4 linked regions of the Homo sapiens genome follow. The protein of the gene in region 1 purifies or fractionates together with the protein of each later gene. This does not show direct contact. Each region holds a gene or a part of one and is shown in the gene's direction. Other genes may lie near its edges. The genes, in order: TEX35, HEPHL1, BORCS5 and RABGAP1.

Region 1 (8,298 bases):
GAGAATAGCTTGAACGTGGCAGGTGGAAGTTGCAGTGAGTTGAGATCATGCCACTGCACTCCAGCCTGGGTGAAAAGAGTGAAACTCTGTCTTAAATTAAAAAAAGGAAAAAAAAAGAGAGAGAGAGAGAAATGCTCTGTCTCCAGCCTAGGCCCAAACCCCTACCAAGAGAAGAGGATTCAAACTTTCTGGGCCAATGTTCACATGGACTCAGCTCTGAGGTCCTAATGACCTCGGGGGCAGAACGTTCAAGGGAAGGAGGTAAACCAGATGTAAAAGAGTCAATGGCCAGGCTGACCCCACTGGATGCCAACCAGCAGTCAGTATCTCCGGGTTCTGAAAAACTTGGCTCAATCTGAGTCATTGCCATGTTCGGTGGGTGGGGCCTAGCATTTGGCATCTCCAGGCAGGAATCAAGTTCAGGTGGCTTCATGGGGCTGGACACAAAGGTTCAGCTGAAGAAGGTTATGGATTCTCAGCCAAGAAGACAGCAGCAGGGCCCACCCCTCAGGAAGGGGCTGGCAAAGCTGAGGCAACTTGGTTGGGCCCTAGTGCTACTCAGAGGGCTTAGAACAGCAAGAGAAGTGTAGACCAGACCCACATTCTGTGCTGCAGAAGGGCAGAAGCCTGTGGTGGGGAGGGAGGTTTGCAGGGCCTTCCACAGAATGAGACTGGGTTAGACTGGGACTGGGACAGACTGGAACTATTGCACGGGAAAGCCCTGGACAAACCAGATCATTATTCCAGTCTCTGTCTCAATGCTCCAGCCCACTGGCCATTCAGGTGACACAGAGGTGAGTCCCTAACCCTAATCCTAACTCTTCCAGTTCACATTTGCTAGGAGATTTCATTCTGTTTGAGTGTCCAGTGTAGGTTTCCTCTTCTTTTTTGTTTTTTGTTTTTTAATTAGACAGGGTCTCATTCTGTTGCCCAGACTGGAGTGCAGTGGTGTGATCCTAGCTCACTGCAGCCTTGGCCTCCTGGGCTCAAGCAATCCTTCCACCTCAGCCTCTAAAGTAGCTGGGACCACAGGCGTGCACCACCAAACCCAGCTACTGACTTCATGGATTTTGGACCTTGTAAGCTACCTCCCTTTTACCCTAAGTGTGGAAGAACTCGAAATCAAGTTTTCTTATGAGGAGACTTGTTAGAGTAGAATAAGGAAGATGAAATGTGTCAGGAAAGTATAGCGGAGATTAGCTGCCTGCCCCATAAGCCTGTCTCCTCTTATTCTTGGGAGAAACCTGGCCATATTTCCCAGCCTCTTTTGCAGTGAGATATGGCCTTGTGATTATATTCCAGCCAAAGGAATGTGAGTGGGAGAGACGAGGGCTATTCCCAGGACTAACCCAAGAAACCCTCCCATCTGAGACGTTCCACTCTCCATGGACCCTGTGTGAAGCATAGTCCCCCAGCAAGGCCAGCCCCAAGAGGCTACTGTGCCACTCAGTTTGATTGTTTCAGTGATGGATGGGAATTTGAAGCTGTCAGAGGTGGACAGGAGGCTATTAGGGGAGGGAATCTCAACTGCAGAGCACCTTCCGGCAGGGAAGCTGAGAGAGACAGGCGTGAAATCATCACTGTACTCTATTTGGGTTCCATCCAAAGAGGGTAAAGGGAACTGGCTAAGTAAGGAGGCCTCAGGAGCCCTGTTTGGCAGGAGCAGGGAGAGCCTCTGCTGGCTGGCGGTGTTGTCTTTATCTCACATGGTAGGTGCCCTGTGATGGTTGGTTGTGGGAAGAGTAGCAGTTTCCCCTGGGTCTCAGAAGGCCCTGGCAAGCATAGGCCTGTCATGGTGAACTTACAGAGAAGATCCTTCCACAATACATTTGCTCAGACTTTTCACTTGTCATTGGCTGTATTGAAATAGCCAGAGATTTACAATGATCTGTTCAGACTGTTATGTTTTGTTGCTGAAATAGAGGTACCAGGAAGTTCATATGATAAAAACTGGATATAAATTTTCCAAAGAAACAACATAATAGGATTATGATTCCAGCCAAGGTCTGATACACTATGATAAAAATGATCAGAAATTGCATAGTAATCAGTGTGCCAATGATAAAAGCTATTTCTACTCTGCTCGGAGTAAAGCTTTCCAAGGTGTCTATAAATCAGTCAAGTAGGATGACACAGGAATCAATCATATGAGATCTCTAAAAATGTCATGTAAGAGGATCTCATGTAAGATCGTCTCTGGCTGAGGGCAGCCACCCAGATACTGCAGCCTGTTGGGATGTAAACAGCCAGGGCATCCTAAGTGTGAGTCGTCTAGGTCACATGTATTGAGCCGTGTCTGTTTGAGTTTGACTGGACAGCAAAGCCTGTGGGATTCTGGGTCTTTGTGAAATGTTCCACCCTAATCAAAGGACTTTAGAACATTGGGCCCCCAGTGGTCGAATAGGCCCCTCAGCACGCATGATGTTCTCTTCATGTTCTCTGGGCCTTGACGCAGGGAGTGGCTGAGCCTGGACCTCATCATGGGCCAGACCCAGAATCACAAAATGCCAAACTCAGAGGCTTAAAACCATTTTAAAATTCCCCCCGACCCCAGCCTCCCCTCACAACACTGTATCCTTAAAACTGAAAAAAAAAAAGCAGGACCCTTGTAAAGAAAATGAAACCCAAATGATATCAACTTGGAGAACAGAGACAGGTGGCTGCTTCTTTCTGTCTGTTGTGAATATTCCTTTTCCCCCAAACTCCGATGGAGCAGCAGTGGGCTCTATGCTGCTTGCCCTGGTACAGAGGGGTTTTGCCCTGAAGGGGGATTAGGAAAAGCGTGTCTGGCGTTCTTCAAGTAAGAACGTCCTATGGCTTACCTAGAACAAAGTCACACCACAGCAATACCAACACTGCAACACTGCTTCAACCTCGTTTCTCTTGCAGGTGCAAAAGCTTCTTAAAAGAATATGAGAATCATTATTCAGACTGGGCATGGTGGCTCATGCTTGCAATCCTAGCACTCTGGGAGGCCGAGGTGGGAGGATCCCTTGAGCTCAGGAGTTGGAGATCAGCCTGAGCAACATAGTGAGACCTTGTCTCCACAAAAAAATTTTAAAAATTAGCTGGGAGTGGGGTGGCGCATGCCTGTGGTCCCAGCTACACAGGATGCTGAGGCAGGAGAATTGCTTGAGTCCAGGGGTTCGAGACTGCAATGATCCATGATCATACCACTGCACTCCAGCCTGGGAGAAAGAGCAAGATCCTGTCTCTTCATAAATAAATAATCAGTATTCAGGTTCGCCACGTGGATTCCCCCAGCCCCGCCAGAATATATCGATAAAACAATGGTGTACAATGTTTGAGAACATGAATAGTAAACGCTGTGAGAAGGCACAAGCCCAGAGCTGTGGCTCTGTAGTTAAAATTCTGCCCAAATGATAATACCATGTGTACTTGTGTATATATACATAGATAATTTTTTACTTTATAATGCAGCTTTGCATTGAGACCCTGATTTCTCTTAGACCTTCTTTCCTAATAGATAGGCCAGTGGGCTCATGTGCTATGCTTGGCTAGAAGGCAGCTCATTTAACAACTGCTCAGCCAAGCAAGGGAAGCTCTACTGCAGGTCCAGGAGGCCCCCAAGCCAAAATTAGCAGAAGGAGGTGGGGCACATTTTCACGGGGCTGGTGGATGTTGAGATGGAGTCAGTCATTTTCACTGTAATTCCCTTAGAGGAAGGGCATTCCTACCACGAGGCCATCAGATCTGAGAGGGCTGAATTAAAAGGTCCAAGGAAACTGAAAAGTTCCAGCCCCTCATTTATAAGTGGGGAAAGTGAAGCCTGGGAAGCTGGTGACCACCCCCAACTCCCTCTCCTTCCGCTGATGCAGTGGCAGACACATTCTCCTCTGGCTATGGTGGAGTAAGACCCACAGCTGTCACCAGTGTCAGGGCTGGGAAATCACCACCTAGGAAATGCATCAGAAGTGCTGCAGGTGGCTCCAGAAGTTCCAGTGGCCTCCAGGAAGGATAGTCCCAAGCAGGTGTGTGAAATGGGAGGGTAAGTGTGGTCAGTAGTGGCCTGCATGGGGATGTCATTCACATGCAATTTGCATTAGTTCCTGTACTCCTGTGCTGTCTGTCCTCAGATGTCCATGTTGGCCTTTTCTGTGCAACTAGCAGTTGAAATGAGAGGGAAGAAGGAAGTGAATGACCAGTGATAAGAGGAAAAGAGAAATCAATTTCACCAACCCAGATCCCCAGTGATTTTTTATCCCATGGGGTGCCATGTTCCTCTGACTGTCTACTTTAGCACAAACTATGGCTACCCGCAGAATGGCCTTTTCTTTAGTATTCTTCATTTGCCCGAAAAGCTTCTTATCTTTAGCTTCTTGTCCCAACCCTCTTCCCGGATGATAGAAGAACTAGGAAAAGAGAATTTTTAGGTGGGCAGGGGTCTGGGGGTGGTTGTGGGACAGGGGCAGTGTGAGGTCAGAGGCATCAGAAACCATCCTGCTGAGACTGGCTACCCCACCTCATACAGAGTAACCCAGGTTAAGTGAGACGGTGCATGCACGTTGAACCAGAGAGACTTCATGGCATCCTCCAGCCCAAGGTGGCTTCCGGTCCGAGGTGGGGTCGGTTCGCGCGAGGAGCGCACAGCAGAGGACATGGGCTGTGCGCTCAGAGGAGGAGCTGGCTGTCCCTGGAGGACGTCCTTCTGAGTCAGTAGGTGAGTCCTGCTGCAGAAGGAGCCACTGCTTCTGACGCGTGCCTTGCACTTCGACCGTAGCAGGCCATGATCCTCCTCAGTGTGGACTTTCCTTCTGTTGCAAGAGGGAGGCCTGGTGGGACTCTGAAACCTGGCCTGAACCCCTCATCTCAGTGGCCGAAGCCCCCCAGGCCTGAAGCTGTGGTGACGCTCTGGACCACCATGTGGGTCCTGGCATTGTGACCTCAGCTGTTCCGTACACAAAGGGGTGGTCACCCTGCCCTCACCTTGACCTGTAAGTTGCCTAGGACAGTGGCCTGGTCCCAGGGGCTGTTGTGGGGAGTTGAAGAACACCCTGGCCTCCTCCATCATGTCGGCCAAGAGGGCAGAATTGAAGAAAACACATCTGGTAAAAGAGAGACATTGCTGGACAGTGTGGGTCCTCTCTGAGCTCCTACTGAATGGAGATGGTGTCGGGGCAAGGGATACAGAGAATGCTCGCATGAATCTCTGGTTTTTCTTTCTCTGTACTGAGCATAAAGCAGCCTCTCAGTCTGGAAGGGGTGTGGGATTAATCCCTAGCCTTGGGGGTGGGAAGGAAAGAGGCCTCTGCTGCCTCCCTCTGGGGATGAGGAGCACTGCCAAGGGAGCACTCCCTACTCCAAGACCACTCATGGTTCCACGGCCCATGCCAGGCCTGCCAGGCCCACATCTAACCAGCAGGGCTAAGGCTCAGAATAACCTTATTAGATAAATATAATCATCACGTCGATTTTATAGATGAGGAAATGGGGGCTCAGAGAGGCTAAGCAACTCACCCAAAATAACAGAGATAGTAGAGAGGTCAGCTGAGACTATAGTGCAAATCTGCCTATGGCCAAAGCCCTTGCTCTGGAAACAACACTTCCGGGGCTTGCTTCTAGTTATCTTAAAGTGCTTTCTCCACGCTGGCGCCTCCAGCAGGGAGAGGGCTGCCTGCCAAATAGGCAGACACACGCCCATAGGAAGAGGACAGCACGACAAGATGTGATTTGTTAGGAATCGGATCCGGGTGCTGCGGGGTCTGTGAGCCTGAGCTCAAGCCAGTTGGACAGGCAGGGTTGCATGGTTGTGGGGGGCAGGGGGCAGGGTTCCCGTGCAAGGGCCAGATGTTCTCCTCCCCAATCCTGATGTCTGCCAGCCTGAATCTCAGTCTCCTCTTTTTGCAGAGCAAGAACTACAAGGCAGTTTGCCTGGAATTGAAGCCAGAGCCGACCAAAGTAAGAAGCCCTTTTGAGGCCATGCAGGCAGCCAGGCCTGAGATCCATGGGGAAGTGACCAGGAGTCAGGGGTCATTTGCTGATCCTAGTGGCCAAGATTTGTCCCAGGTGCTGGGGGATGCACTGAGAGTTCTTGCTCTCATAGAACTTCACACTGTAACCAATCAGATACATAAACGAACAAGGACTCATTCAGCAGTGTTACCTGCTCTGCTGGGAATCAAGACAGGGAGACATGTCTGAGTGGCTGCCGTGGAGTGGGTGGTAGGGAAAGGCCTTCCTTTGAGCTGAGAGCTGAAGGACAAGACTCTGGCTTTGCAAAGGCAGAGTAAGAGCCTTCTAGGCAGAGGAGGCAGCATGCACTGAGGCCCAAGGTGGGAATGAGCCTGGCTGTTCAAGGGACAAAAGGAGCTGAGGCCCCGTGGGCCAGCAGGGGAGTGGAACAAGATGAGCTGAAAGAGGGAGGAGGATAGAGGAACCTTCTGCACAGGTGGGGCCACCAGCTTTCCTCTTGCCTTAGCCCTAAGGGAGGAACAGAAACACAGGGGGATCTCTTCTGCCTCTGCACTTCCACCGCCCATCTGCAATTCCCAAAGGTCTGTGTTCCTGTTTCAATCCACAGACATTTGATTACAAAGCAGTTAAACAAGAAGGGCGGTTTACCAAAGCAGGAGTGACACAGGACCTAAAGGTGAGTGCGTGAACTTGGAGGCATGTCTATATTCCAAACCACGTGAGTGTAAGTTTTCCCCAAATCCTCAGTGCCTGTTTCCTAAATACAAGAATATCCTCTTACATAGGCACAGTGCAATTATCAAAATCCAGAAGTTAACACACAGACAATACTCATCTATAGCCCTTGTTCTAATTTCACCAGTTGTCCCACACATGTGTTGCATAACAACAGAAAGGGGACGTTTTCTGGTCTAGGGTCTGATCCAGGATCACACATTGCCTCGAATTACCAGGTGTCTTTTCTATAATCTGGAACAGAACAGTTCTTTTTCTTTGGGTACACTGACATTTATTTATTTTTATTTTATTTTTTGAGACAAGGTCTCCCTCTGTCGCCCAGGCTGGAGTGCAGTGGCATGATCTAGGCTCACTGCAACCTCCAACTCCCAAGTTCAAGCAATTCTCCTGCCTCAGCCTCCCGAGTATCTGGGACTATAGGCGTGCACCACCATGCCCAGCTAATTTTTGTATTTTTAGTAGACACAGGGTTTCACCATATTGGTTTTGAACTCCTGACCTCAGCTGATCTGTCTGCCTTGGCCTCCTGAAGTGCTGGGATTACAGGTTTGAGCCACTGCACCTCGTCTGGGGACATTGACATTTTTACAGATTACAGATCACTTATGTTGTGGGATAACCCTCAATTTGGCTTTGTCTGTTGGATTCCTCATGATGAGATTCAGGCTGTGCATTTTTTGGCAGAGACACATGATGCCTGTAGGTCCCACTATCTTATAGTCTTTTTAAAACATTAATTAATTAATTAATTTTGAGATGGGGGTGGGGGTCTCGCTATGTTGCCCAGGCTGGTTTCAAACTCCTTGTTTCAAGTGATCCTCCCGCCTTGGCCTCCCAAAGTGCTGGGATTACAGGTGTGAGCCAGTGCACCTGGTCTATCCTATTGTCTCAACAACATCTTTTCTTTCCTCCCTATTGAAAGCTTTTCTCTGACAGTGTCCCAGGATCTTTCCTTTCCTCCTGTTGATGGTTTCCCCTCCATCCTAGATATTTCTTTCCTCCTTCTCTTCTCCATTTTATTTCCTCAGAATGAACTCAGGGAAGTGAGAGAAGAGCTCAAGGAGAAAATGGAGGAGATAAAACAGGTAAGAAGATGAGGCCTTCCATATCATGGAGGGAAAGTGTAGCTTCAGGAAAAATGCAATCCTTAAGTTTGAATAGTGAAGGAAAGCAGGAATTGCATGGAAAAATGTAACTCAGTCCTAATACCCAGAGCACTTCAGTATTAGGTTATTCACTTCTTACTTGTTTGATGCCTAAACCCAATTTTTGAGTGACTGAGGACTCCCTAAAGTGTCTCTTTGGTAAGGGTGGGTGATGTCACCTTAGTGATGAAGCTGAGTAAGAGGGGCTGATTTGGAATATGAATTTAGGGGAAGTCAGGGACCAACCCCATCTTCCTTATTCACTTCCCCTGAGCAAGTTGCAAAGCAGGAAACCTCTCATTTCTATGATACAACCAACCAACCACCTGTAGCATCCTTAGGAAAAAAGCGAATAATCGAGCAAGAAAGTGTAATCGAAGCTGTGGTTCAAGCTCCACATGCAGTCTTGCAGTAGCCAGATCTAAGCCGTGCCAAGGCTGATGGTGGTGGTGACTTGATGGTGCTTGCACCCTAGTCCCTT
Region 2 (7,423 bases), on another chromosome or scaffold:
TATTTTTAGTTTTTATTTCATTTTTTTCCCTTAGGCATTCCCTCCTTGGGGAGGGGATATAGTGGTATCTCATTGTTTTTCATTTACATTTTCCCAGTGGCTAATGATATTGAGCATCTTTTCATGTGTTTGTTTACCATCTGTCATCTGTAAATCTTTGGTGAAGTGTCCAAATTGTAAGCCCATTTAAAAAAATTGGGTTACTTGTTTCCTTATTGTAGAGTTTGAGGGCTTTATATATTCTGGATACAAATCCTTTTTCAGTGATGTGACTCACAAATATTTGCTTCCAGTTTGTGGCTTATCTTTTCATTCTCTTAACAGCTTTCAAATAGAAGTTCTTAATTTTTGATGAAGTAAAATGAAGTACAATTTTTCTTTTTTCTCTTTTATAGATCATACTTTTGGTGTCATGTATAAAAAATTTTGGCCTTACTGAAGGTCCCAAAAAAGGTCTCTGTTTTCTTTTAGAAGTGGTATAGTTTTAGATTTAGGGCTCTGATACATTTTAATTTTCATATGTGGTTCAAGATATGAAATAAGGTTCATTTTTTTTTCATATATATGTCCAAATGTTCCATCACCACTCATTGAAAAGATCATCTTTTTTTCCCACAGAATTGACTCTTTACTTTTGTGAAAATCATATTGACCACATATATGTGGGTCTATGTCTGGGCGGTCTCTTCTGTTACACTGGTTTATACTCTGCCCTTTCTTGAATGCCACAATGTTTTGATTACTTTAGTATTATAGTAAGTCTCAAAATCAGATGGTGATTGTTTTAGCTATTCTAGATGTTTGCCTTCCCAGATAAATTTTAGAAATAATTTGTTGATTTTGATTTTTAAAATCCTGTTGGGATTTTGATTGGTATTGCACTGAAGCTATACAATGGGTTGGACAGAACTGACATAACAATATTGAGGCTTCCAATCCATGAACATGGTATATCTATCGTTTAGCTCTTCTTTGATTTCTTTCATCAGCATTTTGTAGTTTTCAATATAGAGATCTTGCATATACTTTGTTTTATTTATTTATAACTAAGTATATAAAAGGCTTTGGTAATAGTGTAAATGATAGTGTTTTTATTTTGATTTATAGTTGTTTATTGCCAATATTTAGAAATATAATTGATATTTGCATGTTGACCTTGCATCCTGCATCTTTGCTAAACTCACTTTAGTTCCAATAGTTTTCCTATAGATTTTAGGGGGATTTTCTATGCAGACAATCATGTTGTCTGTGAATAGACATGGCTTCATTTATTTTCAATCTGTATGTCTTTTATTTCTTTTGTCTTACTGCAATGGCTAGGACCTGTAGTGCAATTTTGAATATGAGTGGTGAAAGTGGACATCCTCAGTTTGTTCTTAATCTTACAAGGGGAGCATTTAGTCATTCACCTTTGAATATAAAGTTAGCTGCAGCTTTTTTGTGGATCCCATTATGAGGTTGAGGAAATTTCCTTCTAAATTTGCTCAGAGTTTTGATCATCAACAAATGTTAAATTCTATCAAATGGTTTTTCTGCATCTATTGAGATGATCAGATGCTTTTTCTTCTTTAATCTGTTGCTGAATTACATTTATTGATTGTGGAGTTTTTAAACACTTTTTCATTCCCAGGATAAACCTTACTTGGTCATGATGTATTATTCCTTTTTGTGGAATTGATTTGCTAGTATTTTGTTATGGATGATGGTATCTATGTTCATGAGGAGTATTGATTGTAGCTTTTTTTCCTCACAAAGCATTTGTTTAGTTTTGGTATCACAGTAATGCTGGCCTCATAAAATGAGTTGGAACTGTTCTTTCCTCTTCTATTTTCCAGAACAGTTTGTTTACAATTGGTATTATTTCTCCATTAAATGTTTGGTAGAATTTGCCAATAAAGCCATCTGGAGTTTAATTTGTTGGAATATCTTGAAGCAATTACAGTTTCTTTAATAGATATAGTGCTATCCAGGTTATCAATGTATTCTTGAGTAATCTTCAGGAGTTTGTGTCTTTTAAGGGATTTGTTCATACCATCTAAGTTGTACAATTTTTGGATAAGAGGTGTTTGTCCAGTATTTCCTTTTTAATATTTGTAAGATTTTAGTGATGTCCTCACTTTCATTCTCAGTATTTTTAATGTGTCCTTTTCCCTTTTCCCTTGGTTAGTCTGTCCAGAGATTTGTATTAGTTATCTATTGCTGCATAACAAATTACTCTAAACTTAGAGTAATTCTTGGATCAGGAATTTGGGATTAGTTTAACTAGTTGGTTGATTCAGAATCTTTCATGAGGAGGCAATCAAGATGTCGACTGGAGCTGCAGTTTTCAAAGGTTTGACTGGAGCTGGAGGATCCACTTCCAAACTTACTGATATGGTTGTTAACTAGAGGGTTCAGCTCCTGATCATGTGGATAAGACATGAAAACTGGCTTCCTCCAGTGAGTAATCCAAGAGAAGAGGGTGACAGAGTATCTAACACAGAAGTAATGATAACCTAATCTTGGAATTGGAATGCCAGCACTTCTTCCACATGCTATTGATTTCGCATACCAACCCTTATACAATGTAGGTAGGAACCACAAAGGTTATGAATACCAGGAGGTGGGGATCATTGTGGGCCATCATGGAAGCTGGCTACTACAGAATTTATTGATTTTATTGATCTGTTCAAAGAATCAGTTTTAGATTTCTTTGACTTATCTCTATTGTACTTCTATTCTTGATTCCTGCTCTTTCTTATGTCCTTCCTTTTGCTTACTGTGGGTTTTATTTGTTTTTGCTCTTCTTTCTGTTCTTGCTGTTCTGAGCAAAGAAGGCTACTAGCTGTTGTTTTTTAAAACGTTTTTGCAGATAGATAAATCTTACCGAGAAGATGTGTATGATCTCTTTCCTGGGACATTCCAAACCATTGAACTGTTTGCAGATCACCCAGGGACATGGCTGCTACACTGTCATGTGTCTGACCACATCCATGCTGGCATGGAGACAACCTACACGGTCCTTCGTAACATAGGTACGGTTGTCTGTCAGTGATGCCAGATGATGGCACCGAGCTTCCTGTAGACCCCCAAAACAGGAGGCATGACAAAAACCCAGATATAGCCCTCAACAAGCTCAGAGTCAAGTAAGAGAGACATATATGTAAATATGTAACTATAATCAAGTATGCTATGTGCCGTAGCAGAATGCAGAGTACAGGGCTTAATAGCAGCAGTAGGAGTGAATGGGTAACAGTTGGAGGATATGAGCCAAAGTTTCACAGAGGCCATGATGCTCCAGATAGACTCAGTGGGTGAGCAGAAGTGGGAAAGACAGCTGGGGCAGGAAAGCATGTACATGGGAATGAAGTAGCACAGTAAGAATCCAGAAATGATTGGCAGATACTGATGGGATAAGTCCTCGCTGGTGAAATGAAATGACTAGTGTCATGAAAAGAATCCCCTTCTGTTGTTAATAAAACAATGAACTTGTTTTCTTTGTGCAGACAACAGGATTCCTTACTCCACCACATCTCCTGGAGTGGCATCTCACCCAGCCACGGTGCCATCTAACGGTAATGATACCCTCTCCCCATGTAAATGAGTCAACATTTCACCCCTCAAAAATGTCAGGGGCCTGACAAGTTTATCTTTTTCACAGAACGACCTGGCAAAGAGCAGCTCTATTTCTTTGGCAAGAATCTGGGTCCAACAGGAGCCAAGGCAGCCTTGGTCATCCTTTTCATCATTGGACTCCTCCTTCTAATCACCACGGTGATTCTCTCCCTCAGACTCTGCTCTGCAATGAAGCAGACAGATTACCAGCAAGTCCAGTCCTGTGCTCTCCCCACGGATGCTCTGTGAACCATCTGGTCTCCCTCAACAGGAAAGGGTGATGTCCCACAGCTGGCCAGATGGCAGCCAACAGGGAAACTGGACCAAGGCATCACTCACCAAGGAAGGTTGACACTGTATCCTGGATCAGCCTTCTGATCCTCTCAAACATCATCCAAAGCAATTTGCTTTTATTTATTTATTTTTAAATGGGCTGCGAATAATCCTCAGGTATAAAACACAGAAAAAGGAGAATGGGCATGGCTGAGAATGTCAACTCTTAGTCTATTCTTTGGTTGGATTCACTGAATAGGAGACACTCTGAAAGATATCTTTATATTCCATCTTTTATAATTCTTGAACAGTGCTTTCTTAGCTAACCACCAAAGTTTCTAGGTGAACAGCTTCTAGAAAAAGTTAGAGTGCCTCAGACATTTAACTGGAAGGGCACTACTTTTTCAACATTGTTGCATAACATGCATCCCTTGGTTCTGTGGAAAATATCTTTCTTAGGAGTTCTTGGCAATGTCTAAGTCAGTGTCTGCTGATAGAATTAGACCAAATAAATTTTTTGGAGGCTTTAACCAGCTCTCCTGGCCTTTTCCTCTTTGATATAAATAGCCTGTGCAGTGCTTGTTTTAAAAAGCAAAGTTATACGTTTTTTAAAAAATTGCTGCTGTTTTTATTCAAACCTGTAGAAATACTTGAATGTTTACAACTCACTTCATGTTACATGTTTTTACAATATGTTTCTGTGGCAATGTTTGTACTTTCAAAAATCAAGTAGAGAAATTGTATTTCTACTGCAGACTGTGGGAGGGCTGAAATCTGTAAAAGAACATGTTAGGCTCTCCCTTTATGAATCAGGGACTCCCTGAGAGTTTAGAGCAAGCTTTCTATCAGGGAGGGAAGCTTTGCAGGAGGCAAGTCTGGGCTTGAATTTGGAGTCTGATTTTTCATTCAGTTAGAGGGAATCTTTACAAGTCCTCATCTTCTATGAAATTATAACATTCTCATTGTATGAGAAACATCAGGAGGAATTTATCAATGTAGGTGACTAGATAGGAGAAGGGACCTCTAAATATCCTAGATTCTATGGCTTTTAAAGACATACCTCTTCATGGAAGGAGAAAAAAGGAAAAGGAAAGGTGAGAAAAAGATAATCTTGGTGGCAGATTCTCTTAAACCATTAAACCAGCTTTGAAAATTAATAAATAATTTCCAAGGTTCAAATGCAAAAAAATTATTGAACAACTAAACTCAACCCATTATGAGGCAATCTACACTGTCCATACCTATGCTTAGACAGTAGGTGTAAGATTGATAAAAGTAACATTGTTTATTACAAGACTGAGAAATTGCTTTTAGCTCTGGGCGAGATGCCCTGAGATTCCAATGCCAATGCTAGATGAGTGATACTGGTATGCCTGCCTTAGCAGTGGGTAATTTGAATGTCAAAGTGAGTGACAAGGACCTAAGAAATATTCTGGTGGAGGGACCTTTCACACTGTCTCATCTTCATCTTCATGAGGGGAAATGGGTAATTGGATAGAAGCTATAGTCTTAACATAAAAGGGGATGCAAATGCTAATAGTTCTGTTCATAGTTTGCTTGAATGTCATATCAAACAGCATACACAAAAGATTTTGAATTTCAATCTGCTAACCATTGACAATGTGATTTCATAGTACATGTTCTACAGTTTTCATACATGTGTAGGCTGCATAATTTCATAATTATGGTAAATGCCTTATTTATTACCCACCTTAGTAAGACAAGTTGTTCAGTTGTTTTTTTTTCTTTTCAGTTTATTTTTTTAATGAAAACAAAACCACAAAGTAGTTTGATTGCATCATTTATCATTTTAATAAAGTGTCACATAAGGTGGCTATTTGCATGGTTATTTTCACTTAAAATTATCTATCACTGAACTAGGGGAGGTGGTTAAAGTGGAATTAATTTTTAGATATTTAGGGGCTATGACTATGCCAATGACACTTGTTAGAGGAAATGAAACAAAATAGTGTATCTCCACAAATAATATGACTTCTCAAACATTGTTTCCTCAAACATAACTACACTCCTTGTTCTCAGCCTCACTCTTGAGAAAATCAACTCTGCCTTCACTTACACACATATTTCTTCCTATTACAATACACGTGTCCCTGCTCCTAGCAGGACAGTCTCTTCATTTGACTTTGGGTCTCATTGCTTCTTGCTTTCTCAAGACTTCATTCCCTTGGGTATCCATTTTTCCTCCTGCATCTTTCTATGAAACCATCAGCAATGTCCGCCATTAAAAACAGAAAGCAATGTGCTGTCTTATTTAACTCTATAACCCCCTCCGACACAGTTTCTCTCTTCCTTTGATAGCAGAACATAGAGGTATTCACACTTGGTGCCTGTACTACCTCACCCCATGCATTCCTCAGCCCATTCTGATGGCTTTCAATCCAGCGTGCCCAGCCCCCACACCCCAATCTGCTGTGGTAGAGATCACCAATCATGATGCCATTTCCAGTGGCTTCTTCTCCATCTTTATCTTACTCAACCTCTCAGCAACAAGAAACAGCTCCTTCCTTCTGAACACTCGGAGTCTCTAGTCCCTTGGCTCTGCAACATGACTCTCTGCCAGCCTTCCTTCTTCCTCAATGACTATTCCTTCTCAATCTCTTTTTCTAGTTCCTTCTCTTCTGTCTGACCTAAATGTTAGCATGCCTCAGAACTTGACACTGGGTCCTTTTTCGCTTTTTACCCTCTGTGGTAGGCTGAATATTGCCCCAAAGATGTCATGTCCTAATCCCTGAACCTGTGAATGTCACCCTATGTGGCAAAAGGGACTTTGCAGGTATGATTAAGGATCTTGAAGATAGGAAATTTATACTGGATTATCCATAATGGCCCTATATGTAATCATGAGTGTCCTTATGAAAGAGAGGCAGTGGGAGATTTGGCTACAGAAGAAGGCAATATGACAACCAAGACAAGATGCCATGCTGCTGGCTTTGGAGATGGAGGAAAGGGCCATGGGCCAGGGAATGCAAGGAATGCATCTCCAGAAGCTGGGAAAGGTAAGGGAAAGGATTTTCCTCTAGAGCCTCCAGAGAGAGGTTGGCCTTGCAGATATCTTGAAACTGATTTTGGACTTCAGAGGTCCAGAACTGTAAGAGAAGAAATGTGTGCCAACAAGTTTGTGGTAATGTGTTACCAGCCACTCCATAGTTTATTTTATCCATCCTTATGATCGGAAAACCATTTTTATGCAAACAAATTCAAAATGTATTTCTCTAACCCTGACCTTGGGCTGCAGATTCACACAAATCCTGCTTGAGTAGGGCCACTGCAGCAGTCCCCAAACCAGCCTCTCCATCATCACTACTGCTCCTTTCCACCACTGTCCACACATTGCCTCACGTTTTTCCAAATTTCATCACTTTCCTGGTTACTACCCTTTACTGTCTTCCCATTTCACTTTTAATAACATCCAAACTCTTTACCTTGGTCTTTAAGACCCAGCTTGACTTGGCCCATGCCCACTCCTCCAACTTCTTGAACTCTGCTCCAGCTTTCATCCGCTCCTATACTCTGCTAGTTCTTTCTTGCCTCAGGG
Region 3 (7,724 bases), on another chromosome or scaffold:
CCTCCCACCTCAGCCTCCCAAGTAGCTGGGATTACACGCACACACCACCACGCCCATCTGCTCCTAGTTTTTTTCTAGATAAGCAACCTGAGACACAAAGGATAAGCATTAGCAGCTCATACACGTGACAGAGCCAGATTCAGCCTTGGCCTGACTGATTTCCACATCCAGAATTCCCCTCATATAGGGAGATAGAAATCTCAGGATCTCAACAAGGTACAAATAACGCACATTCCCAGAACATAGAGCCAGGGACAGTCCCCTCTCAGTTCTCTTCTAAAGGTGGTTCTGGCACAACAGTTGATAAAGCTGTGTCCCTGAAGGGCTTTTTAGCCCTGGGTGCTTCCTGTAAAACTTGTCAGCTTCCACTGGATCTGCGGGACTGTGTCCCTCACAGGCTGGACACCCGGCCCTGCGGAGAGGACTTGATTAAACAAGGTATAATGTACTTCTCTTTCCCATCCACAGATGGATCTGTCTGTAGAAACTCTGTTCAGCTTCATGCAGGAGCGCCAGAAAAGATACGCCAAGTATGCCGAGCAGATCCAGAAAGTGAACGAGATGTCCGCCATCCTCCGCCGCATACAGATGGGCATCGACCAGACTGTGCCCCTGCTGGACAGGCTCAACAGCATGCTGCCCGAGGGCGAGCGGCTGGAGCCCTTCAGCATGAAGCCCGACCGCGAGCTCAGGCTGTAGCTGCTGCCCGGCCTGCCTGGGGCTGGGAGCCCCAGACACCGACACCCTGAGGACGTGTGGAGCTAAGGTCATATCATCTGACCAGGTCTGGAGGCTGGCGGGAGGCTCCCTGAAAGTGGGTGCGAAGGAGTCCGGCTGGCATGAAAATCTGACTTTGCCCAGCTCTTTTCCTTGATGCAGTTTCCCGGTGTGGAAGGAACCTAACCAGTTCTCGGTGATAACTGAAGCTGGAACGTGTGAATTATTAGGAATTCTTTGAAGAACTCTGCATTGAGAATTATTTTTATTTAGTTTTTTTTTTTTTTTAATTGAGAGTATATAGTCCAGTCCAGGTACCGGAATAAAAATATGGAGACAAGGGGAAAATATTTTACGAAGCTCTGTGTTCTCAACGCCCTCATGAACTTTTCAGTAGGCTGTCTGGTTTATGTGTGGTCAACTTGAAAAACTAATTGAATCTAGGTCTCTGTATTGTTCCTGTTTCTACCCTGACTGTTTCCGTCACACCAAGCCCTTATCTGGGGCGCGTCTTCCTGCCCAGGTGGAACACTGGCATTTTGTTGACTGTCAGGTTAGGTGTCCCTTAGTCGTCATCAGAAGCTGAAGCCTTCCTTTCCACACCCTCATCAGATTCATCTCCACTGATAACCGGTTTCCTTGATGCAGACATAGTTTAGCTTTCTTTGACTGCAGAGATGTCTCATTCCACAGACATTTCTTGAACCCATTTGATGTGTCCAATATTGTGCCAGGGATACAAATATGGCCGTATAGCCTCAGGCCTTCATTTCTGAAAAGAAAAAAGCTCAAAAAGCTGCTGAATTTCTCTGGGAGTTTAGGAAAGGAAGTTATTTGAGTAACAACAAAAGTGCTTAGTGTCGTACTTTACACATCATAGGTGTTCTAATGGAAGCAAGGACTGGAGAAGCAAAGAGTGGAATGTGAGGAGCAGACCTAGGCAGACACCTTGAGACTAAAAGTCAGAGCTGAAGGGAGTCGCTGGGGCCAGGACGGCATGCAGGCCTGTACCCTGTTCCCTAAGTTCCTGCAAGCGTCGGGAGGTGTGTTTTCAGATACCAGAAAGAGCCTTCAGTAGATTCACAAGATTAAAATTGATGCGCTTAATTTAATGTATCTTGGCTAAACTTGATCTGATTCTAATCTTGGTTTGAGACAGGGTCTTGTGCTGTTGCTCAGGCTGGAGTGCAGTGGCGCAATCATAGCACACTGACTCCTCAAACTCCCGGGCTCCGGGGATCCTCACGCCTCAGACTCCTGAGTAGCTGGGATTACAGGTGTGTGCCACCAAATCCAGCTAATTAAAAAAAATTAATTAATTTTACATTTTCAAATTCAAAAGAATAATACAATGAATATTCATATTTCTTTCACCTAGATTGACAAAAAGTGGTATATTTAAGACATCACCATCATTGTCTTTCTTCTGGAGTATACAGAACCTGGTTCTGAACACAGGGATATGTTTGTAGCTTCGAGGAATGAAGGGCTGTTTACAGAGCTACAAAAATAGCTTAGGTGCCATTATCCTCACTGCACTTAATACAGGTGACACATGAAAGCACAGAGTGGGTGGCAGTTCAAGCCTGCGAGGGCCGAGCCTTTCCACTGCTGCAGCTGTTAGTGGCTGGCACAGGGCAGGATGGCAGACCTAGTGCAGCACAAACAAACCACGCAGTCAGCCAGCTCTCCAGCCAACTGTGTCTACTTCTAAAGTAGAAGTTAGACAAAACATGGGGTTCACTTAGACTGGGGTCCTGAGTAGGTGATAGGCTACTTATTACTGGGTGGAAGCGGAGAAGTATGGCAGAAGAACAATAGGCAAATTCAATACTCCCGGAAAGAATTCTAGTTAGTTTAATATTTTGATGGCATGTTGTGGTTTCTGCAGTGTCGTGAACTTGGCTAAACTGAACTGTGTTCCCAGAATTCCCTTCCTTGTTTGTTTCTCTGGTGAGGGTTGGCCACGAGAGAGATTTGCATGAGGTTTGGAAGTGGAAGTAGAGCAACAGCCATGTGTATTCACTGGAAGTGGATGTAGGTCAGGCCCTGTTCCATCACGTGCACGTTACCATGGATCTCCTGCACTTGTGGTGTGGGCAGCCGCTGGGCCCACGGCTCCTCCCACTCCCGCAGAACTCTGCCTTTGGCTTTTCCAGACCCTGGGCCGGGTATGAGAACCAGCTTCTTGGTCTGCAGCCACAAGGATGAAGGTTTGGGGATGAGAGACCAGCACGGGCTCTGATGAGAGACAGGTGCAGGTCCCAGCTTGTGGCTTGCAGGTCTCAGTCGTACTTGCTCTCCCTCACCATCCTTTCCAACCGCCTGGCCTGTGGTCTGGTGAAGAAGAAACAGCCGAACCGAGACTTTCACCAGCCCCTCTAATTGCTCAAACCGCTTTCACAATCCTCTCTTTCTACATCATTCCTAGTGGTTCTTTTCTGATGGAACCTCTGACTGGTAACATGGCATTACCAGTCCTTTCCCTCTCATGTTTTGCTATTTCCTGATGGAACCTGGGAGTCTGAGTGATTTGTATTTCAAGAAGCAGTTATGCTGGATCTCTTTGTTGGTTAATACCCCATGACCTATCTGGCCGTTATGGGATATTTCAGGGATAGGAGTTGTGAAAGAGCCCTTGGCTGGACGTTTCTAGCCTTAATCTTTGGCAAGCCATTTCATTTCCCTGAGCCTCAGTTTCCGCCTTCCTACAGCGTGAGCAGGTCTGGGTGGGCTCTCAAGCCCCTTTCAGCTCTAAGATTCCAAGTCTGTGATTCCGATACATCTTGACTACAATGAGCGTGTTTACCTTTTGTCTCTGAGCAGTGGCCCTGGGTCTTGGTAGTGACTAAATTCCGAGCTCCCAAGGTGCAGCTGCTTTTCTTCCTTTTAATTATAAATTAGCTGTTCATTGGCTGCTTCTTTCTAGAGCCTGTTTTGCTTATCTTGCAATCTGTTCATTTCTGTTGATGAACACAGTCAAATAGGCCTCTATGTGCAGTCTCCTGGTTTCCCTGGTCAAAGTGGAAGGTTGGTAGAAACTGGCCTTCATGTCTTTGTTTCCCTCAAAGTTTTATTCTTAGTAACGCTATATATGGTTTTATAGACCACACATATATAGTTTCCTGTGTCTTAGATGATAACATCCTTAAAATATGAAATATATTTTGAACCTAGATACCTACCCAGTATTCTCTGCACAGAGTAAACATTTCATTAAATGAGTTTCAAGGACTCCATACCCTGATATAGGAGTACATTCAAGAAATGAGTTTAGGCCGGGCGCGGTGGCTCACACCTGTAATCCCAGCACTTTGGGAGGCCGAGACGAGTGGATCACCTGAGGTCAGGAGTTCCAGACCAGCCTGACCAACATGGTGAAACCCCATCTCTACTAAAAAAAATACAGAAATTACCCGGGCATGGTGGCTGGTGCCTGTAATCCCCGCTACTTGGGAGGCCAAGGTGGGAGAATCGCTTGAACCTGGGAGGCGGAGGTTGCAGTGAGCCAAGTTCGTGCCATTGCACTCTGGCCTGGGTAACAAGAGTGAAACTCCGTTTAGAAATGAGTTTAGTCTGGGAGAATCTGCTTTTTGAGTAAAAAAGTTTGATTTTATGTATGTGTGCGTCTGTATATATGTTTCTGTATCCTGAGTATTTCTTTGCGGCTTCTTCAGTTATGAAAGAGGTTGGTACTGTTACCCTTACGTTATAGGTATTACAAACTCGGTTTTACAAGGTTACATAAACTAATGGCCCTGGGGCGAATGACGTATGCCACTTTTGTGTTGATTTGTAGAACTTACTTAGCTTTGGCATTTCCCCTAGTAATTCCCAAGGCAAAACCAGGAATTGTCAGAGACGTGACCAGACATGTATTAAAATTCTAGTGCAATTGGGAAACTTGGTCTTCCTGATTTGTTTATACTTCAGCCAAACCCAGATATATAGTGCTCAGCAGAAATTATTCAAAATGTTGATACTCAAGATTGAAGGATGGATTAGGGAGAAATGAAAACTTTTCTTCTTGTGGACTTTTTAGGTATGAAATTTAATCACGAGAGTAGTTTTGCTTTTCTTTCCCTGACCTTTCGCTTCATTCCTTTGTTAAGAACTATATAGTGCCTCTGAGGAGGTGGCATTATTGTTCACTAACTTACCATAAATCAGGGGTCTCCAAACCCCAGGCCACAGACTGGTACCCATCTGTGGCGTGTGAGGAAGTGTGCTGCACAGCAGGAGGTGAGCGGCGGATGAGCAGGTGAAGCTTCACGTGTTGTTGTTGTTGTTTATTGAGATGGAGTCTCGCTCTGTTGCCCAGGCTGGAGTGCAGTGGCACGATCTCGGCTCACTGCAACCTCCGCCTCCCGGGTTCAAGCAGTTATACTGTCTCAGCCTCCCGAGTAGCTGGGACTACAGGTGCCCGCCACCACACCCGGCTAATTTTTTATTTTTAGTAGAGATGGGGTTTCACCATGTTGGCCAGGCAGGTCTCAAACTCCTGACCTCGTGATCTGCCCGACTTGGCCTCCCAAAGTACTGGGATTACAGGCGTGAGCCACTGCACCTGGCCAGCTTCGTGTGTATTTATAGCTGCTCCCCATCACTCACATCACTGCCTGAGCTCCACCTCCTGTCAGAACAGACCCAGCATTAGACTCCCCTAAGAGCGTGAACCCTATTGTGAACTGCGCACGTGAAGGATCTAGGTTTTGCGCTCCTTATGAGAATCTAATGCCTGATGATCTGAGATGGAACGGTTTCATCCAGAAACCATCCCCCTGCTTCCCTGTCTGTAGAAAAATTGTCTTCTATGAAATGGGTCCCTGGTGCCAGAAAGGTTGGGGACTGCTGTCATAAATAACATTGAATTTCATGTGGGTTTTTTTTTTTTGACACACCAGGCATGTCTCTTCCATTCAAATGCTATGGCTACAGAGGGAAAGGGTAGCCAGATAATTATCCACATGCTTCAAACCAAAAAGATAAAAAAGTTGGCAACTAGATCTAGTTGCCTGCCAGGATGACCAGCGTTATGCTGGTGTGTGCGTGTCCATGCCTCCGGGATTTTTCCAGGGTTATCAATGTCAGTGTAAGATCTGATGGAATTTACCGTTGACTCAATTTTCTTCACCAATCAAGGCTCATTCCTTGAGGCATGAGTTATGCGAAAAGCTTTTCTGCACCAAGTACTTTCATTCTGGTCTTTGGAATTGTCATAATTCTGACAGAGAACACAGACCATTACTGAATGCTCTTCAGGTTACCCTATTTGCCTGTCACATTGCTTCTACCGGCCACATCCTGCATTTCCTGTGGGACAGCATTTTCAAACGGATTCTAGTGTTTGAGCTGGAACCAAAAGAATGAAACTGTTTTTACATAAGTGCATATTGCTGTCTCTGCAAATAAAGTACAACAATATGACTGACTTGTAAATATCTTCCAGGACAATGCTGTGATTTTCCAGTTGATTCTGCAACTTTAAAGATATAACCAAGTATAATTAGGCCGTTCAAGGATGAATGGGTCCCACAGAAGCTAGAAATAGTTTACTTCCTGCTTCCATTTCTAGATGCAGAAGACTAATATTCACAGAAAAATTACGTAGACAAATTTTGTTTACTAGATCTAAAACATTCCTGCTTCTCAGAAAAACAAAACCAAAGGAGTATTTAAGATAAAGTAACAGTGAACGTGTTGAGACTAAAAAGTTTCCATCAACTAGTCCCATATGCACCCTCTACCCTTCACATAATCTCTTTGGACACTCGGCTCCAATTTTGTCTTATTTTTCTTCACATCTCAATCTACACCTTCCTAATATGTCCGGAATTGGTGGATTCTTGGTTTCACTGACTTCAAGAATGAAGTCGCGGACCCTCACAGTGAGTGTTACAGTTCTTAAAGGCAGCGTGTCCGGAGTTTGTTCCTTCTGATGTTCGGATGTGTTTGGAGTTTCTTCCTTCTGGTGGGTTCGTGGTGTCGCTGGCTCAGGAGTGAAGCTGCAGACCTTCGCGGTGAGTGTTACAGCTCTTAAGGCAGCGCGTCCAGAGTTGTTCATTCCTCCCAGTGGGCTCGTGGTCTCGCTGGCTTCAGGAGTAAAGCTGCAGACCTTTGCGGTGAGTGTTACAGCTCATAAAAGCAGTGTGGACCCAAAGAGTGAGCAGTAGCAAGATTTATTGCAAAGAGCGAAAGAACAAAGCTTCCACAGTGTGGAAGGGGACCCGAGCGGGTTGCCACCGCTGGCTCGGGCAGCCTGCTTTTATTCTCTTATCTGGCCCCACCCACATCCTGCTGATTGGTAGAGCCGAGTGGTCTGTTTTGACAGGGCACTGATTTGTGTGTTTACAATCCCTGAGCTAGACACAAATGTTCTCCAAGGCCCCACCAGAGTAGCTAGATACAGAGGGTTGATTGGTGCATTCACGAACCTTGAGCTAGACACAGGGTGCTGATTGGTGTGTTTACAAACCTTGAGCTAGATACAGAGTGCCGATTGGTGTATTTACAATCCCTGAGCTAGACATAAAGGTTCTCCAAGTCCCCACCAGACTCAGGAGCCCAGCTGGCTTCACCCAGTGGATCCTGCACCAGAGCTGCAGGTGGAGCTACCTGCCAGTCCCACGCCCTGTGCCCACACTCCTCAGCCCTTGGCTGGTTGATGGGACTGGGCGCTGTGGAGCAGGGGGCGGCGCTCGGGGAGGCTCAGGCCGCACAGGAGCCCACGGAGTTCGGGGAGGCTCAGGCATGGCGGGCTGCAGGTCCTGAGCCCTGCCCTGTGGGAAGGCAGCTAAGGCCCTGTGAGAAATTGAGCACAGCAGCTGCTGGCCCGGGTGCTAAAAGCCCCTCACTGCTCGGGCGGTGGGGCCAGCTGGCTGCTCCGAGCGCAGGGTCCGCTGAGCCCACGCCCACCTGGAACTCGCACTGGCCTGCAAGCACCGTGCGCAGCCCCGGTTCCCGCCCATGCCTCTCCCTCCACACCTCTCCCTCCACACCTCCCGGCA
Region 4 (8,068 bases), on another chromosome or scaffold:
AATAACAAGAGAAAAATGCCAGACGGGTTGGATGAAGCAGAGGAAACACAGCTTGGAGGAAGAAAACCAGTTTATTAATAATAATGATGGCTACCTTTTATTGGTGTTTACTGTATTCCAGGCACTGTGCTGAATGCTTTTCTTGCCTTATCCCTCAGATGAAGAGCCGGAAGCTTAGAGAGGTTCTCAATGACTTGTCCAAGTGGCACATGGTCAGTGAACAATGGGCGATGAGTCCAGGCTGTCTGATGCCAAAGGCTAAGCTCCTAACTACTGCCCTGCACTACCTCTGAGCAAGAGACTGGGACAGGCACTTATGCATGAGTGTATTCTCATTGTGACCCTGGGGATATAATTTCCCCTCTCTGAATCAGAGTTTCCCCATCATCTTAAAATGGGATTATGCTAAGTAATGGAAATCCTTTGCAGTTCCCAATTCTTGTTTTGTGACAGCATATCTTAAATGTTTCAGGCTGAGGAAAAGGCAGATGCTCTGAATAAGGAGCTGCTGATGACCAAACAGAAGTTGATTGATGCAGAAGAAGAGAAAAGACGGCTGGAAGAAGAGTCTGCTCAGGTAAGGGAACTCTCCCACATTCCTCTGTCTTGCAAATGCTTGAGAACTGGGAGTTCAGCTGGTGGCTTCCTGTTGGCACTAGAAAACCTAGAGACATCTGGCTTCAGTTTCTTTCCAAAGACTTTTTTTTTCCCCCTACTGTGTAAAGTCCAATGGTTCCTAATTAAAGTCTAGGAGGAGACAGTGGGTTGAAGCCCATCCTTTGTTGGGGCAGGAGAATTTCTGTGTATCAGCATCTGAGCATAACAAAGAAGAGGGGGTAGAATTCCTGCAGAAGGAAAGCACACATCATATAATGCCTGGCTGTTTCCCTACTTGTCCTCTGCTGTCTCCCTCATAGAGCAAGCTTGGGAAGTCTTGTTCTGAGCCAGTGCTCCATAGTCATTGGAGACACAGACCTGCAGGCATGGGAAGAGCTCTGGGTGCTGTGCGCCTGGGAGCAGTCCCCTCCCCTGTCACACCACGGTCGTCCAGGAGGCAGGACTGGCTGGGGTGAGAGACTGCAAAGCCCTTTCTACAGAAACCATGAGATGCTGAAAACCCGCAGTCCTCTTATGAGCTCTTTGGTTTGTGTCTGGTCTGTCAGTGAAGGTCCACAGGTTGGCTTGTACTGGCAGGGAAGACCTTCAGCAGAAGCCTCAATCTGAAATGGGGTCTGACGTTTTTGGAAGTTTTAACTGTTCTCTCCCTCTCCTGCATCAGGAACAGGGGATTAGTGCTGCCAAGATTGAAGGAAGAAAGTAGCTGAATTAGAGGACTTCCAGGGTTTGGTTCAGCAGTTTTTGGGAAGCCTAGCACTAAGCGGTTGGTGGCAGAACTTCCTTTATTTTTCTGTTAACATAGTCCCTTTTGTTTTTTTATGTGTGCAGTTAAAAGAAATGTGCCGTCGGGAACTCGACAAGGCAGAATCTGAGATTAAAAAAAACAGTTCTATCATTGGTGACTATAAGCAGGTAGGTTCCAGTACCCTGGGATTGGGCTGTGTAATCTGGGAGCCCCTAGTCTGGATAAAATGTATACCCGCCCCCCACCCCCAAACCCAAATGCAAGCACCCTGGTTTCAGATCCTGGCTCTGCCCCTGCACTGACAAGTGGCTTCACTTATTCTCAGTTGTAAAAGAAGGAAAATCATCCCTGCCTAGGAAGGTTGTTACGAGGATTTAAAAAGACCATGTTTGTAGAGTGCCTGGCAGTGCCCAGCACATAGTAGGTACTTAAAACCACAGTATGTTTTGGTATGTATTTCAGATTCAGAATTACGAACTTTTGTTTACGTGTAGTTTTAAACCGGTTATTTCCCTGACTGGTTGAGTTTTAAGAACATAACAGAATGGTCTTGTTCCCTCCTACACTAGGATCTCTTGCTGGCTCATGAGTCTGGCAGGTGTTCAGAAACCATTGGCCATTGAGTGTGGTGCTGCTTGGTTTCTGCAAGTCCTAGGCCAGTGAATGCAGAGGCGGCATAGCTAGAAGAACCCCTGCTTATCCATCGACTTCATATCCCCTCCTGAGCGGTAGCAGGCTATTTGCTACTATGTTAATTCCAATTTACATATTCCAGCTTCCACTATGGAATTTATGCAGATGATTACAATTGCTCAAGAGATTGTTGTTTTATATTTGTTTCTTTAGATTTGTTCTCAGTTGAGTGAAAGATTGGAGAAGCAGCAGACAGCCAATAAGGTGGAAATTGAGAAAATTCGGGTAAGACTTCTCTTTACCTAAAAGATTTTATACCACCTACTTCATTTTATGGCTGTATAAACAGGTTTTGGGAGGAGGCAGTTGATTTCAAAAGTGAGAGAATCTAAGCAATAAGGCACCTGTCACAGGTCCTGGCTCAGTAGTTGACAACTAACACTACGCCTGTTTTCTCTGGAAGGGTGTACAGATGAAATCAAACAAGCTCTAGCTTTAGATCTCAAAGTGCAAGTGCCCCATGATTTCCAAATGTCTGTAAGGCAGTCGATGTCCGCAGTGTGATGCTGAGGAGAAGGAGTCATGCAAGTGATAGGTCTTGCTTGAGGTGGTGGGAGTGCAGAGGTCAGAATCATGTGCTGTGGCTTGTCACTTTCCAGTGTTGTTCTGAGTTCATGCCTTCTGCTGTAACACATCCAATTACAATGAGGACCTTAGTTTATTTTTATTTTTTTTTATTTTTAGAGACAGGGTCTCACTATGTTGCCCAGGCTGGCCTTGAAATCCTGGGCTCAAGCGAAATCCCTCCCTCAGCCTGAGCTGCTGGACTCCAGGTGGGCACCATTGCGCCCAGTTTAGAACTTTAATTGTTTAATGTTTTGTTGGCAGCTTAGGAGTTTTTATAACATGGTGCTTTCTTTCTTTAAGTTCTACCTGTATTACAGAACTTGTCAGATTTTACTAAGATAAGCAATTTACTGAAAAGTGCCTCACTAACATATTTACAGCTCAGAGGACAGGAACTTGGGAAAGTTCTGTGCTCATGGCTATGTTTGCGCAAAGCAACATTACCTAGAGCAGGATGACACTGGCCTTCGTCATAATTAATGTTTAACCAGATGTGTGTGTGTGTGTGTGTGTGTGTGTGTGTGTGTGTGTGTGTGTGTGTGTGTGTTTGAGACAGAGTCTTGCTCTGTCATCCAGGCTAGAGTGCAGTGGCGCCATCTCGGCTCACTGCAACCTCCGCCTCCCAGGTTCAAGCTATTCTCCTTCCTCGCCTCCCAGCTAGCTGGGATTACAGGCTTGTGCCACCGTGCCAGCTAATTTTTCGATTTTTAGTAGAGGTAGGGTTTCACCATCTTGGCCAGGCTGGTCTCGAACTCCTGAGCTCGTGATCCACCCGCCTTGGCCTCCCAAAGTGCTGGGATTACAGCTGTGAGCCACTGCGCCTGGCCAACCAGATCTGGTTTTTAAACAGAACTTATTTTCTGATTCTAAAACTTTAATATTCTTGCAGAAAATTTGGAAAAGAAGAGTAAATAAGGGAAAAAAGCCCTTATGATCCATTTTCCACATATAACATCTTTATTAATACTGTGGTGTGTATTCTTTCAGTCTTTGTTCAGTGTTTAACGTCTAAAATTTCATTCATTCTGAGATAAGCATTTCTTTTCACATTTACATCTCTGAAAGTCGGATGTTTTATAATTGGCTTTTTGTGGTTTAATTGGCAGAATGTTTTCTTAGAGGAACATAAAATGACATTTCTTACAGTTAATGGCATCTTATTTTGATGAAATGTGGAATACATTTTATTTGTAATCATAGTTTATGTACATTTTTGTGTTCTATTTCAACCAGCATGCATCCATTTTCCAATGTTATAAAAGTTCCTCAAAAACCTTTTAGAGGCTGTGTACTTCCTTGTATAAATATAGCACAGTATATTTAATATTTAATTGTTTTTGAATAGTTTATCCCCTGCTTTTTTGCCTGTCTCCAGTTCTACAGTGAAAATTTTTGTACATAAATTTTTATCTAGTTACAGCTTCATTTTTCAGCCTGGGTTCCTAGAAGTGAGATTACTGAATCAAGACAATGATAATTTTATTATTTTTGGTGTATAATACCAAGTGGCTTTTCCAGTAGGTTATCTGCCAGTTTACAAAGAGCACAGGTTTTCAGAAACTGTAGTGCTCAACAGAGAAGCCGTCTCTTGGTGTCCCCCAAAGGAGATGCTCACACCATCCTAAAGGGCCAGTTCCTCTTCTTTGCCTCTTCACATCTAACATTCAATTTCAGCAAAAAGTGGATGACTGTGAGCGGTGCCGGGAATTTTTCAACAAAGAAGGGCGTGTAAAAGGCATAAGCTCAACCAAGGAGGTTTTAGATGAGGACACGGATGAAGAGAAAGAGACGCTCAAGAACCAGCTGAGAGAAATGGAGCTAGAACTGGCACAGACCAAACTCCAGCTGGTGGAGGCCGAGTGTAAGATACAGGTAACAGCAGCAGAGCTCAGACATGTGCCTGCGGGCTGGGTTTCCTGATGTGCACTAGAGACCCCAGAAATTATCTTTATGGTTTGGGGTTTTTCCACACCTTTTAAACTTTGGTCACAGTTGTCATGAGAAGAAATATAGGACTTGTTACTGGCCAGTGGATGTCTCATCAGTATTTGGCCTGTCTTGAGGATTTCCGCTGTCATATTGAGAATAATACACAAAAGCTTGGAATCTTTTGATGGGATGAGAAGACAGTGCTTTAGAAACACAGCTCTACCACTGAACTGTTTGACCTTGGGTTAGTAACCTCCCTACATCTCAGGTTCCTTATCTACAAATGGAAATGATGAGAGTCCCTATCTGATAGGTTGGTTTGAGGACTAAGTAAGATAGTGTGCACAAATGGCTTGGCAGAATGTCGGGGGCTTTATAAATGCAAGCTTTTGTTCTTCCAGTTCCCACCACTTAACTAGCTTTGTGACTGTTAATATACTACCTATCTGAGCCTCCTTTCCTGATAAAGAAGTTAGGGCTTGTTTTGGTCATCTTAATACACATTGCTAGGTCCACCAGCACCACTAAACCCTAAGCACTGTTTATGGAGGGAACAAGTTCAGGATAAAAGCTTTAGGGCTGATTCTCCCTCATGGCACACATTCACTGGGCATCTGCTCTTTGGCAGGCCCTGTTATAGGTCTGGGACTGCAAAGCTAAGGCCTGGTAGTGTGACTACCCGGAATAATCAGGAAAGGCATCACCAAGGCAGCAGTAGCTGTGCTGTGATCAAAGAATGCACAGGGCTTGTAGCTACAGGAGAGAGAGAACAGTGGCAATTCCAGGCAGAGGGAGTGGCATGTTCAGCAGCACAAGGAGGAGAGTGGCTGCCCAGGAAGGACCCTCAGGAGTTCTTTCCTTGCAGTAGGGGATGGAGGTGGTGCTAAGGCTGGAAGAGAGTGTGTGGATCCAGATTGCGAAGCATTTCAAATGCCATGCTAGGGAGTTTAAAGATTTTTGCCAAAATGAAATGATGTCACCAGAAATAGAGCATTACCTGTCTGCCTGGTGTGCATTAGGTGGACAGAAGAGGGAGACATAGCAAGTAGAAGACTGTTTTAATAAATAGACCAGGCAAGAAATTAGATCTTAACTAAAAGCTCCCAAATCTTTAGGCATTTCAGGCATTTCTATGCCAGTTGGAGACTGGGGGAATTCCCCGAGGCCTCTCCAGAGTAAATAGACTGCATTCTTGTCTTGGTTCTCCTCTGGGGAGCCAGTGTCATTGACACCAAGCCCAGCATCCTCATGCACACTGTTCCTCTTGCAGGACTTGGAACACCATTTAGGGCTTGCCCTCAATGAGGTGCAGGCAGCCAAGAAGACGTGGTTTAACCGAACACTGAGCTCCATAAAGACAGCAACCGGGGTTCAAGGGAAAGAGACTTGCTGAGAGCAGCTGCCGCCTCCCGACACCTTCAGAAAACACGACACCTTTTGTTGCCTTCTTTGGCCAGATGTGTGATTCTGTGACTTGTCCCAGGACCAGAATGTACCTAAGTCAGATCCATAGACGCATGTTGGTAGGTCACTGGACCAGAGCTTGTGAAGCAGGCAACCTCTGGGGTAAGACTACTGATACTAACAGGCCTGCTAGCTCAGCCGACGCTCTGGACACTCTAGAAATCACTCCTCAGTGTGACCTCCCAGGCCTCTTCCCCGTGTACGTCAACACCTCACCCAGCCTAAAGGCTGAGTTTACATGATCAGAGTTAGGGGATCCTTCAGTCTGTTGATTTTTTTTCTAAACCTTTTTTTTTTAATATACATATATATATATATATATATATATATATATATATATATATATATATATAGTGGGGGTGGGGCAAGGGATCAGAAATTCAAATAATTCTTTTCTGCTTCAATGCCAGCAGAAGGTCCCCCAGGTAGACATGGAGAAGCACTTTGTTTTAAATAGGAGGGTTTCATAGTTGCATCTGAAGCCACCTGGTTCTGTTAAACTGTATGGTGCAGGTTTTGGGTTTGGCATTATTCATGTTTCTGATCAATTCTATGCAACTCTCATAGTTCCTGTTACTTTTTAGCATTAGCTGCCAAATGACTTCAAAAGGCTGGGGTGGGTGACTTGACTGTGAGACTGGATTATAACATGGACAAATCTTATTTTGCTTAATGTGTTTGTGTGTGTGTGTGTGTGTGTGTGTGTGTGTGTATGTATATATATATATAAATATCTTTCCCAATATGCCCCGTTGACAGTGTTTAAATTCCAGACTAGGACTGCTGATCTGCACAATTTAATTATGTGGTTATTCGAGCACTTAATTTCACTCAAGGTTCATTGGGCTCTGCTCTCCTCCCTGCCATTACGGGAGCTGTGGACAGAGCTCCCTCACTTCAAGATTCCTAGTGTTTTTGCACAACAGGTTGTCCAAGTGAGAAAGACTGAGTTGCGTGTCTGTAAATGTCTGCGCAGGGTGCACATGCTGCGAGGTCTCCATCCTCCGGGCCTGTCCCTCCCAGATGGGCTGGGCCTTTGGGCCCTCCTCAGAGTATGCCTGGGTACAAACCTCACTGTTCAGATGGGCTGTAAGTTCTCACTTCAAAGCTATGGAATGGATTTTAGCACCTTTAAAAAAAAAAAAAACTTTGACTTTTAATTTATATAGTGATATGCTGACAGGCTGACACGCAGATGGTTTTGTCCTCTTTTCTGCGTTCAGTGTTGAGGCGGCTGCTTACAAGAGGCACTGGTTTTGTATATAAAGACACTCGGGTTGTTTTGTAGCTCTTTTTCTTATTGGCTGTACTAACGCTTGCTGAGGTTATCTGTAATAAGGGAGGTAACAAGTGGCAACCCCCTCCCCACCAACCATCCCCTTTGCTGCTTTCTGTGTCTTTCTTGTTCAGTTACCAAAATAGCTGTAAGCCTATCTAATGCTAGGTGTGTGGACATTGTGCTAAGGTAGTTTCAGTGTGTCAACTTTATGAATTGAAATATAAACCAGTAAAATTGTATTACTGTTTCTTTTGTTGGTTTTATTTTAACAGCATATTGATTAAATATTTTGGTACAAACAAACAGCATTGCTTTGTAAAAACCAGTTTTGTCATCACCTACTCCTGTCGCCTCCCCTTCTTCCCTCATCCCCTGCGCACAGAAGCAGTCAGAGAAGACCACTGTGTGTGCTGTAAGAGAGGCATGTGTGAGCGCGAGGCAGCCCCTCACCCACCTGTTGAGACGTATGGAGTGGTAGGGTGTGGCAGGCCACATGGGGCAAGATGACGACGTTGATGCCTCTGTGTTTGTTTATGATGAACATTGCCCCTCTGAGAAATAACATGCTGTAGTAGCAGGGATGAGGGACACTTGGTGTTTTTGAGGCTTAAGGAAGCCTTACAGGAGGTAAGGGTCAAATTAGACCTTCAAAGGCAAAAGCATCTCACCAGGCAGAGATGGAAGAGGGAATTCCAGGGCCAAAGTGTGCATGTGCAGGGGAAACAGCTGAAGAGTAGAAAGGCAGGCTGAGCACCTGGGGGCCGGCTGTGGTC

What was found.
Region 2: the proteins of TEX35 (region 1) and HEPHL1 purify together in Homo sapiens (affinity purification with mass spectrometry; 3 studies listed by BioGRID and IntAct, with this or other methods). This does not show direct contact.
Region 3: the proteins of TEX35 (region 1) and BORCS5 purify together in Homo sapiens (affinity purification with mass spectrometry; 3 studies listed by BioGRID and IntAct, with this or other methods). This does not show direct contact.
Region 4: the proteins of TEX35 (region 1) and RABGAP1 purify together in Homo sapiens (affinity purification with mass spectrometry; 3 studies listed by BioGRID and IntAct, with this or other methods). This does not show direct contact.

The regions. Positions count from the first base shown.
Region 1 is NC_000001.11:178,508,159-178,516,456, forward strand, and holds the start of TEX35 (testis-expressed protein 35), read left to right. Parts: upstream 1-4,950; 5' UTR 4,951-5,030; coding exon 5,031-5,069; coding exon of another isoform or gene 5,070-5,093; intron 5,094-5,868; coding exon 5,869-5,919; intron 5,920-6,541; coding exon 6,542-6,610; intron 6,611-7,700; coding exon 7,701-7,757; intron 7,758-8,298.
Region 2 is NC_000011.10:94,108,052-94,115,474, forward strand, and holds the end of HEPHL1 (ferroxidase HEPHL1 precursor), read left to right. Parts: intron 1-2,851; coding exon 2,852-3,014; intron 3,015-3,485; coding exon 3,486-3,554; intron 3,555-3,640; coding exon 3,641-3,843; 3' UTR 3,844-6,157; downstream 6,158-7,423. UniProt on the Homo sapiens protein: Is a copper-binding glycoprotein with ferroxidase activity. It oxidizes Fe(2+) to Fe(3+) without releasing radical oxygen species. May be involved in the regulation of intracellular iron content.
Region 3 is NC_000012.12:12,465,078-12,472,801, forward strand, and holds the end of BORCS5 (BLOC-1-related complex subunit 5), read left to right. Parts: intron 1-468; coding exon 469-699; 3' UTR 700-6,156; downstream 6,157-7,724.
Region 4 is NC_000009.12:123,097,269-123,105,336, forward strand, and holds the end of RABGAP1 (rab GTPase-activating protein 1), read left to right. Parts: intron 1-472; coding exon 473-577; intron 578-1,446; coding exon 1,447-1,530; intron 1,531-2,209; coding exon 2,210-2,281; intron 2,282-4,297; coding exon 4,298-4,495; intron 4,496-5,822; coding exon 5,823-5,945; 3' UTR 5,946-7,598; downstream 7,599-8,068. UniProt on the Homo sapiens protein: May act as a GTPase-activating protein of RAB6A. May play a role in microtubule nucleation by centrosome. May participate in a RAB6A-mediated pathway involved in the metaphase-anaphase transition.